Linked DNA regions of Homo sapiens. The protein of the gene in region 1 interacts with the protein of each later gene in a pairwise test. Each region holds a gene or a part of one and is shown on either strand. Other genes may lie near its edges. The genes, in order: HMGCL, PECR and MS4A7.

Region 1 (3,654 bases):
CCTTCCGCTTTGCCTCGTTGTAGTATATTTATCCAGATTAAATCTGTAAAACAAAGTTGATTTGAAAAGTTACAGTATCAAGACAGGTAGAGGAAAGAGGAAAAAAAAAGTATTGTGTTACTTGATAGGGAAGACTAAGATTTTGAGCTGACTTTATATAGAGGAGACTCAGGGCATTTTGTAAAAACTGTCTTCAGCTACTGGGGGTGTCACCTCCCCTTAGACCCATGCTTGTCATCACCCAGCCTATGACTGTAACAGAAGAGAGCCCTCCTGCATCTCGCCCATACCCCGAAAAGTCCAGGACTGACTACTCCTCCCCACACTCAGTAATTGCTCTCTTCTGGGACAGCTGTGTCCTTCATGGTTTATGTGTTATTTTAATAACTTTAAAGAGTGGCTACTTTGTACCAAACACGGTGCCAAACACTAGGGATGAAGTGGAGTTGAGACAGACAAGGTCCCTCAAAGAGCTTATGTTCTACTGGAAGAGACATTGAGTAGGCATTCTTTATCGTGCTTTGAAGGAAATAATTATAGCTCTGCAATAGCGAAAATAATGGGGGTGGGAGGAATGGCAGCTTTGCAAAGGGTGGTCAGAGGAAGCCTCTCTGCAACTGAAAGATGAGAGAGAGATGTAAGAACAGCCAGTTTTTTTAAAAAAAGCCAGATGAGGAACCCTGGGGCAGAGGGAAGAGAAGGCAGGGAGCTTAGCAACCTGTTGGGTGGAGGTTGGGAGTGGACAGTAGGGGCGAGTGATGATTCCAGGAGGTCAGAGGAGGCAACTCATACAGTCTTTTCTTTTCTTAATTGGAAAGCATCAAGTGACATATAGAGTCATTTAATTTTTTTTTTTGAGACAGGGTCTCGCTCTGTTGCCCAGGCTGGAGTGTAGTGGCACAGTCATAGCTCACTGCAGGCTCAACCTTCTGGGCTCAAGCGATTCTCCCACCTCAGCCTCTTGAGTAGCTGGGACTACATGTCCATTCCACCACACCTGGCTAATTTTTCTATTTTTAGTAGAGACGGGGTTTCTTCATCATGTTGGCCAGGCTGATCTCGAACCTCTGGCCTCAAGTGATCTGCCTGCCTTGGCCTCCCAAAGTGCTGGGATTACAGGCATGAGCCACCGTGCCTGGCCTTTTTTTATTTTTTTTGGAAATGGAGTCTTCCTCTGTCGCCCAAGGTGGAGTACAGTGGCACGATCTTGGCTCATTGCAACTTCCACCTCCCTGGTTCAAGCAATTCTCCTGCCTCAGCCTCTTGAGTAGCTGGAGTTACAGGCGTGCACCACCACACCCGGCTATTTTTTGTGTATTTTTAGTAGAGATGGGGTTTCACCATGTTGGTCAGGCTGGTCTCAAACTCCCGACCTCAAGTGATCGCCCGCTTCGGCCTCCCAAAGTACTGGGATTACAGGCATGAGCCACTGCCCCCCGCAATACCTGGCCTTTTTAAACTACTTCTAACATACATACAGCAGCATACAGAGTCCTATAGGCCATGGTGAATAGGTGAAATGGCTCAATGAAGTTCTGGCTTATGCAGTAGGGTACATGCGATGCCTTTGACAGAGATGGAAAGGATGGAGTCAGATGGGCTTTAGGAGAAATTAGAGTTCTGTTTCGGGACTGCTATATGAAGAGATGCGAATAGAGCTGTCAGGTAGGCAGTGGAAAAGGAGTCTGGACTTCAGGGGAGAACCGGTACTGGAAGGATGAATCTCTTGCTTGTTCCTGTTACTAAGTGAAATATTCTTTTTGTTCTTAATTCTAAAATAGACCAAATGTGAATTAAATGGTGAGAAATATTTCTTCTTGTCTCATTATTAGTGAAGATAGATCCATTCTTTCATATTGGTCTCCCTGGGAATTGTGGCAATCTCTTCCTCATACTTTTTGTTTCCTCTTTTAAACCAAAGGTCAGCACCTCATCTATGGGCACTTTACCAAAGCGGGTGAAAATTGTGGAAGTTGGTCCCCGAGATGGACTACAAAATGAAAAGGTAAAGTTGGAAATGAGCCAAAAAAACAGTTTTTTCAAGCATCTGCTTTGAGTATTACGTGTGATAGGTGCAATGGCAGTTGACAGAGCTATGCAAGATGTGATTCCTCTGCACAAGTTAGGGGAGAGTAGAGGAGGCCAAACAGGGACAGACACCTGTGACAGTTAAATGATCTAAAATGGTGGGGCAAGCTGGATGGGTGGCTCATGCCTGTCATCCCTAATTACTTGGGAGGCTGAGGTGGGAGGATGGCTTGAGCCCAGGAGTTTGAGACCAGTCTGGGCAATATAGCAAGACTCTATCTTATTAAAAAATATATGTATATATATAAACTGAATGGTGGTGCAACAGGTTTGGTGTCCCCAGGTCCACAGCCCAGTGGGGTGGGGTAGACCCAGCAATTCCATGTAAGGGGATTTATCCAAAGCAAGTCACGAAGGCCAAATGTAGAGATTTAGCCTTGGGGGTGTTCCTTACAAACCTGTTTGGTAAGCACAGAACAGTTGGAAACAACTTAAATATTTAGTATGAGGAAAGTTGGGTCAGATACACTATGGACTTTTTATAAAATGAAATATTATGAAGCCATTAATAACATAGGTATATATAAAGTGACTCAAGCAGTTTATAAAATAGTACATGTGACTGGGCATGGTGGTGGCTCATGCCTGTAATCCCAGCACTTCAGGAGGCTGAGGCAGAGCACGATTCTGTCTCCAAACAAAAACAAATAGTGCATGTGCGCGTACGCACGCGCGCGTGTGTGTGTGTGTGTTTTTGGGAGATGGCATCTCACTCTGTCACCCAGGCTGGAGTGCAATGGCGCAATCTCGGCTCACCTCAACCTCCTCCTCCCGGGTTCAAGTGATTCTCCTGCCTCAGCCTCCCGAATAGCTAGGATTACAGGCCCCTGCCACCATGCCCAGCTAATTTTTGTATTTTTAGTAGAGATGGGGTTTCACCAGGTTGGCCGGGCTGGTCTTGAACTCCCGACCTCAGGTGATCCACCTGCCTCAGCCTCCCAAAGTGCTGGGATTACAGGCATGAGCCAATGCGCCTGGCCATGTATTTTTTAATCTTAACACTTTTATGTAAGAAAAAAGTTTATATATGTATGGGAGCATTTATCTAGACTAGGACCTAGACCAGCACTTTCTGTGAAGATGGAAATATTCTGGACCTGAGCTTTTCCATGTGGTGGCCACTATACCCATGTGGCCCTTGAGAACTTGAGATGTGACTAGTGTGGCCAAGGAATTGTATTTTTATTTTTATACAATTTTTATTAAATTTAAATAACCACATGTGACTAGTGACATATTGGGCTGCACAGATCTAGAAAGTTACACACCAGGGTGTTAATAGCGTTATCACTGGGAGATTCTAAGGGTGGTTTTCTTTTGTTTTTGGCATGTTTTTCTGAAAGAATCATATATTGATTATTTTTTCAATAAGAAAAGCTTTTTTCTTTTTCTCTTTTTTTTTTTTTTTTTTTTTTTTTTTAGCACGTCCATCCTAGCTTTAATAGTGAGTGCTTGTTGGAAACAATAGTGTGTAAGTTCCCGAAGGGCAGAATCCTGTCTGTTCTGCTTCTGCTTACTGCTATATCCCCGGCACCTAGCACAATGCCTGCAACATGGAGGGCTTTC
Region 2 (3,654 bases), on another chromosome or scaffold:
TGAGTGACAGAGCAAGACTCCATATCAAAAAAAAAAAAAAAAAAAAAAACCGGAACCAGAAATGACACTGATGATATAATTAAATAGACCAGTGATGAAGAGAAAAATCTTAAAAGCAGCCAGAGAAAAACAACACATTAAGTATACAACAAGAAAGATAAAGACTTCTTTCAGAAACAATGCAAGCCAGAAGACACTGAAACATCTTTACGGTATGGAAAGCAATGAAAAAGATGGTGAACCTAGAAATCTTAACCCAGTGAAAATATCTCTCAAAAATGATGGCAAAATAAAGACTTTTTCACACATATGAAAGCTGGAAGAATTCATCAAGGTGATCTGCACTACAAAAAAGATGAAAGGAAGTCCTTCAAGTAGAAGGAAAATGATGCCAGATAAAAATCTAAAAATATACAGAAGAAGAAAGAGAACTAAAAATGGTTCGTGTGTTTGTTTTTGAGACAGGGTCTTACTCTGTTGCCTAGGCTGGTGTGCAGTGGCGATCTTGGCACACTGCAGCCTTGACCTTCCAGGATCCACTGATCCTCCCACCCCAGCCTCCCGAGTAGCTGGGACCACAGACATACACCACCATATCTGGCCAATTTTTTTTTTTTTTTTTTTTTTTTTTTAGTAGAGATGAGGTCTATGTTGCAGAAATAGTAATTATGTGAGTAAATATAAAGACTTTTCTTGTTTCTATTCAGATCTCTTTAAAGGTATAGTTCAAAGCAAAAATAATAACAACATATTGTAAGATTTATAACATATGTAGAAATAAAATGATTCCCTCCTTCTCCTTGAGAATAATAGCACAATGGCTAAGAAGGGGAAATGGAAGTAGAGACGGTCCTTCTTTTGCTCTGCTCCAATATGCTCTGATTTCAGTTAGCTTAGCTTAAAGACACCAGTCTCTCAACAACATGGTTCAAATTTCAACAACCATGGTATATTAACTGTAACTGCATAAAATGCAAACTTTACTGCTAGCTTTTCAACCCACAAATCATAAATAACAGATGCACATCAAGATCAGTGATTAATCATGTCATTTCTTCCAGCGTCTATCAGTGAATGCCCACTGTGCATCTCTTCTTCAGTTCAGAAGAGCTCAGACAGCAAATAATATAGCTGTGTCACCTCCTGGTCTTTCAACAAGAAACCCAAGTGACATTTTATAAAAACACATGATCTAAGGGGGGACTGGCCAACAAACATGAAAAGTGAGACCAAGAAATGAAAATTTGTAACACTGGAAGCGAAATTAGAATGCATGTCAGGGGAATTATAAAAGGGGAATGCGTGACACTGCTGCCAGTCTAGAAACTACAGAAAGCCAAAAGATCTTACTGAAGGCAAACTTAACATCATGAGGAAAGTGCCTGTGACAAAGAAGATGAAGATATCCCAGAGGAAGTGATGCCCACAAAAAACTTCAGATTAAAGACACTTTTGGGGCCAGGCATGGTGGCTCACTTCTGTAATCCCAGCACTTTGGGAGGTCGAGGTGGGCGGATCACAAGGTCAGCAGTTCGAGACCAGCTTGACCAACATGGCAAAACCCCTTTTCTACTAAAAATACAAAAATTAGCCAGGTGTGGTGGTGGGCGCCTGTAATCCCAGCTACTCCGGAGGCTGAGGCAGGAAAATTGCTTGAACCCAGGAGGCAGAGGTTGTAGTGAGCTGAGATCGTGCCATTGCACCCCAGCCTGGGTGACAAGAGCAAGACTCTGTCAAAAAAAAAAAAAAAAAAGAAACTTTTGGAAATATTTCATGACATTGAAAGTATAAAGGATAAAATGTTGGAAGCTGATCGAAACATAGAAAGGAGTACAATAATTTAACAAGGTACAGAAAAAAATGCTTGCTCTATATCATAAGGTATACAATGAGAAGGCAAGCACTAATCGAATGACTCGACACACTTCACATGAAAATAAAACAGTTTAATTTTCAATACTGAGGTTTTTAAATTTTTATTTTTAACTGACAAATAACTATACATCTATGGGGTAAAATGTGATATTTTGATATATAAATATATTGTGGAATGATGAAATCAGGCTAATGTATCTATCACCTCTTATCATTTCTTTGAGCTAAGAACCACTTTGAGCTAAATCCACTATTCTCGGAATTTTGAAATACACAATGCATTACTAACTATAGCCATCATGCTGTGCAATAGATCATCAGAACTTATTCCTCCTGTCTAAATGAAACTTTGTACTCTTTGACCAACATCTCCCCAGTGAAACTGGTCTACTTTTATTATTTTTTTCATGTCCCTCTGTGGCAGACTGCCATGGTTACTACTTGAGACCGTCACTACGACAGTTACTACTGTTACTACTTACTATTTGAGACGGTCATTACGACACTGAACGAAGGAGGATGAACGCAGAAATGAAAACTTAAAACAAAAGAAACTGTTTTAAAGGAAGGGGCCAGGGGAAGAAGAAGAGGGTTCCCTGCTTCTACTGAGTAAAGGCAGCAACCTTGAGCTCCTACGGCCTTTTGTATTTATTGGGTAGAAAGAGCAGGGAGGAGCAGGTAACATTTGGTCAGCTGCTTAACTGATCACAGGTTCACATTATTGCTAACAGGCTTCAGATGTGCCTCATCACAAGAAACACTTGCGCCTGGGTCGTGACTGCCCTCAGCATTCCTTCAAGGGTGGCAGACGCAGTTTGTCATTTGCCAACATTCTGCATTTATGAGAACAGTTTGCTGTTTGCTCATATACCCTCCAGCGGTATACTGAGTTGATCACGACCCTCACTCTTTCAGCCTGCAACATCTCTCCCTTTTTGTTTTTGAATTAATTGAGACAGGTAATTGCAAAATGTGCAGCCTTGGTGGTTCATTCCGTCTTCGCATTCAGCTCATACTGGGGGAACCGGGCCCATGGTTGGGATCCATGGGTCGCTCTAGTCTCCCGTTCTGTGGTCGCACACACCTTGAGGGCACCCACACAGTTTGTTCATCTCCTGCAAAAACGCAAGCGTACCCTTATCCCCACGTCAGTAAATCTACCAAAACAGAAGCAAAGGCTTTTGTGGCTGTGGCCAGGAGGCATGCCGTTGCCAAAGCATCTGCTCCACAAGCTGTAACTCAGCTTCTGCCTCTTTGGTTAATTACCACGGGGTAAACTTCTCATTGATAAGGAGAGGCAGGCTCTCTCTGATTAACAGAAGGCACATGGAAAGCAAATTGAAGCTCATCCTTCTCGTGCAACAGTATAGCAAAGAAAAAAAATCATTAAGCCTTCAATTTGTACTGTACAGGTGAGTCCATTAAATGTTATGGGTTGTGATAGATAAATCTCTCTCCTAGTTGTACTTTCAAATCCTTGATTCCCTCGCTTCTCCCTTCGTGGAGAAGGGTGCAACTTACAGGGAACAAGCAATAGTTGTGCAATATATTCTCCTGGTTCAAAAACCCAAAGTTCTTGTGACATTACCACTACTGGAATTTCCTCTTCACAATCAAAATCAACAACTCCTGGGGCTACAGTAACGCCCTGCAAGTTAAGATGACTTTTGCCCAAAACTCTCTATTTGTCTCTATTTAACTCTACCTCTATTTCTATTTATCCCTACTTATCTCTATTTGTCCCTGCAGGCCTCTTTAGGTCCCTTCAGGTCTCTGTTT
Region 3 (3,654 bases), on another chromosome or scaffold:
CAGGCAACACAGGATCTGGACAGTCTACAAGAGAGAAGACAGGAAATCTAGACTGCACTTCAAACAGATAAAAGTGATTATTTGAATGCACACGGTAAAGTATAAAGAGTATAAAATACATTATAATTTGTTATATTAAAGAGGAAAAATGTTACAAGGAGCCAATCGATATGCTTCTAGAGAAAGTCATGTATAGCTAACCTCTTCTTTTCTGATAGGATTATTAAACCAGCAAATCGGAAAGTGATCATACACACATTTTAACTTTTTTTGAAAAAGATACTTGACAGTTTTTAAATTTATTTTCTTGAAAAGTAGATAAAAAAGTTGTCCAGTGAGGTGGAAATAGAGAGCAAACTTTTCACAGGAGTGTTAATGAAGAGATTTTTCAGTTGAAATTAGATAGAGCAGGTCATCTCTTCTGCTGTAATTCATCTTATTTTGTTCATCATTGGATTTTAATAATAATTATTTCGCAAGTGGAAGAACTGAAGTTTAGCTGTTAGCTTGCTCTAAAGCCCATGCTTTTGCTCATAGTTTAATGCATGTGCAATTGAAAGATGATGCAAACATAGGAGAAATAAAAAAAGAAGTCAACCATTCACATCATCAACAGTTATTGAATACCACAACAGGTATGTTGTGTGCCAGGCACGAGGGAATGAAGCAAATGAAAATCACTACCATTGGAGAGCTTATATGTGTACTATGTCTTGTCTGTAAAGGTACAGACAAGTTCCATGCAAGGCAGAATAGAGTTAAGAGCAAAGTAGTAGGACATGAGGCTTGTGAAGTACTGGAGGCATGGTACAAACTATGTAGGGATTTTTAGGCTATGTTTTACCAACTTTGCTTTTCATTTTGAGCAAAAAAGGAATCCCACTGGATAATTTTGAGCCAGGAGAATACATGATCTAACTTTCATTTTTAAAAGAGTACCCTACCTGCTGTACTAAGAATAGATTGTAAAGAAACAGGGCAGGGAGATCCATCTAAATAGGCAGTGAATAGGACCTGGGTATTATAAGAGGGTATTCAAAACCACATGGAGATTAAAGTTCTGGATATGAGGGATGATGATCTGGGACACTTGGATGTCTTATAGTTACTCATATGAACGGGGAAAAATGGGTCATGAGATTAGTCTTGATCGTCTCATCTCAAAATATTTGAAAAATAAGCTCAAAGTTAATTTAATCATATTGAGTAAAATCCATATGGTTAAATAGAAAATTTTTACTGTACTAATGACAAAATAAGAAAGACTAATTTGTGGCTGGGCACAGTGGCTCATGCCTGTAATCCCAGCACTTTGGGAGGCCAAGGCGGGCAGATCACAAGGTCAGGAGTTCAAGACCAGCCTGGCCAGTATGGTGAAACCCCATCTCTACTAAGAATACAAAAATTAGCCGGGCGTGGTGGCGTGCACCCATAGTCCCAGCTACTCGGGAGGCTGAGGCAGAAGAATCACTTGAACCCAGGAGGCGGAGGTTGCAGTGAGCTGAGATCGTGCCACTGCACTCCATGCTGGGTGACAGAGGGAGATTCTGTCTCAAAATAAATAAATATATAAATAAATAAAATAAGAAAGACTAACCTGTTAATTGTGAAGCATGCTAGTGAAAAAGATCTAGTGGTTTTAGTTTCTAGAAACTGCTGCAGAGCTTTAAGAGTCTTCCCTTAAAGCTCCATTTCATGTCCTCATTAGCCTGGAGTCAGCCAGAAAAGAGTGAAAGAGTTTCCCAGACCCACTGTAGATCTGTAGTCTAGATACATTTACAAAGTATTTTCTCAGTATTCCCCTTATAATGAGGTGGACTTACCCCAAGAACGGTGGTTTCTGTTGGCAGCCCGTTCTGCAGGTAATCTTCGTTTTGGTACATGTGTCCAGGTTTCTCTCTTTGAGGGATAGTGATGCCCTTTGGTGTAAAGCTGTGAGAAACCCCCATGGTTTGGGATTGTAATAGCATGATGCTGATGATGCTGGAAGAGGCATCAAAACTCAGTTACTTCCCAAGGTTTGACTTACAGACATAAACTTCCCAGGGACCATACTTTGTAGGAACTTAAGAAGGTATTTGCCATTATTCCAAGGCTGGTTGTCCTTCAGAAACAAAACATGGGGATCAGTGGAGCATTGGAAAGTGGGCATGCTGGGCACAGTTCATCCATTGTGGTCAAGAAGCATGTCACTGGGAGAGTACTGTACACATTTTGAGGGGTCCCACAATTGAGAGGTGAGCAAATCACATAGAACTTGCTTTGTAGCCCTGAATGTGTCCATCTCCCTCTCCCTCCAGTGACCTCTGCTTCCAGCTTCCCTTCCCTATCTCCTGTATCTCTGCTTCACTTGTGCTACCTTCTCACACCACATCTTCCAGGATTACACTTTTATGCTACACCTGCACTGATCAGTCTTCTACTCCAGTCTTCATTTTGTCTTCGTAAAAATGTTGAGGATGAATGCTGTTCCACTTTCCTTTCCTATAGCGAGATGGCCTGTCCCATCCGGAATCTTCCTCCTTGCTTATATTGGCTTCGTAATTAGTAATGTAAACATTTACTTAACTCCTGCTGAATTCCAAGCATTAGACCATTGCAGCTCTAATCCTTATAACAACCCTGTAACTTACATGTTATTAAATCAATTTTATACATTAGAAACCTGGGGCTAATAAGCTCAAGTGACTTTTATTGAATGAAATAGTCACATAAAGTACTTAGCCTGGCACTTAGAATGTGTTCAATATATGGTAGCAAATATTAACAGCCTGTGTTTACATGACTGGATTGAGACTTGTCTGGCTCAGACGCTTGTGATATTTTTTTCTCTATGCCATGTTAATTCTCCTCCTCTTCCTCTTCCTTCCTTTCTTCCTTCCTAACATTTCCAGTTCCCTTGTAGATTCCAGGAGCAAGTTGTCTGCCACCACTAACTCAGCAGCATTGCTGGGCCTCTGTGGTGTCAGCAACAAGGCTCAGCACCTGAAATGTTGCCCAGATTTGTTTTCAGCTCAACATTCTCCCTACTGAAGGCCAGAGTTTAGTTAAAGGCTTGTCATCCTTGAAAGGTGCCACAGCTCTGCTGCCTGACATTTTGCCTCAATGTGTTGGTGCTTTAGGAATGGTTCTGGCCTCTCTTGGGTGGAGTGAAGAACATGTAAAAATTGGAAATGACACCTAGAATCTCTTCCTAGTGAGGGAGATGGAAAAGTGCACTGGGATGGGAGTCCAATGCCTAGGCATCTAGTTGCACATCTGACCATATGTCTTGGAGTCCAGTCGTGTGTTCAGATCCCATATCCACCAGTTACTGCTAAACTCACCCTGGGCAAGGTATTTTCACCACTTCATAGGTTTGTGGTACAGGTTGGATAAGATGACACATATAATGGACTCAGCATAGGGGGAGGCATGTGATAAACTCCCAAAACATATCAGTTTTATCTAATATTCATTGGAAGCCCAGTTCTGATATTGATGAGCTGGCCGTAGGCAGGATACTTTCCCTCATTCATCCCCAGTTTCCTTATCTGTAAAATAAGGATAATGACACTATCCTGAAGGACTCTTGTGAGGATTTGAATGACACACGTGAGTGTCTTTTGTTGTAACTCTCTGAGTTTTATCAGGTGTTCCATAATAGTCGATCCA

What was found.
Region 2: the proteins of HMGCL (region 1) and PECR come close enough for resonance energy transfer, tested with the Homo sapiens proteins (one large-scale study listed by BioGRID).
Region 3: the proteins of HMGCL (region 1) and MS4A7 interact in a two-hybrid assay, tested with the Homo sapiens proteins (one large-scale study listed by BioGRID and IntAct).

What each region holds. Positions count from the first base shown.
Region 1 is NC_000001.11:23,818,861-23,822,514, reverse strand, and holds part of HMGCL (hydroxymethylglutaryl-CoA lyase, mitochondrial isoform 1 precursor), read left to right. Parts: intron 1-1,921; coding exon 1,922-2,005; intron 2,006-3,654. UniProt on the Homo sapiens protein: Mitochondrial 3-hydroxy-3-methylglutaryl-CoA lyase that catalyzes a cation-dependent cleavage of (S)-3-hydroxy-3-methylglutaryl-CoA into acetyl-CoA and acetoacetate, a key step in ketogenesis. Terminal step in leucine catabolism.
Region 2 is NC_000002.12:216,068,200-216,071,853, forward strand, and holds part of PECR (peroxisomal trans-2-enoyl-CoA reductase), read right to left. Parts: intron 1-3,654. UniProt on the Homo sapiens protein: Participates in chain elongation of fatty acids. Catalyzes the reduction of trans-2-enoyl-CoAs of varying chain lengths from 6:1 to 16:1, having maximum activity with 10:1 CoA. Has no 2,4-dienoyl-CoA reductase activity.
Region 3 is NC_000011.10:60,381,458-60,385,111, reverse strand, and holds part of MS4A7 (membrane-spanning 4-domains subfamily A member 7), read right to left. Parts: intron 1,984-3,654; 5' UTR 1,971-1,983; coding exon 1,824-1,970; intron 25-1,823; coding exon 1-24. UniProt on the Homo sapiens protein: May be involved in signal transduction as a component of a multimeric receptor complex.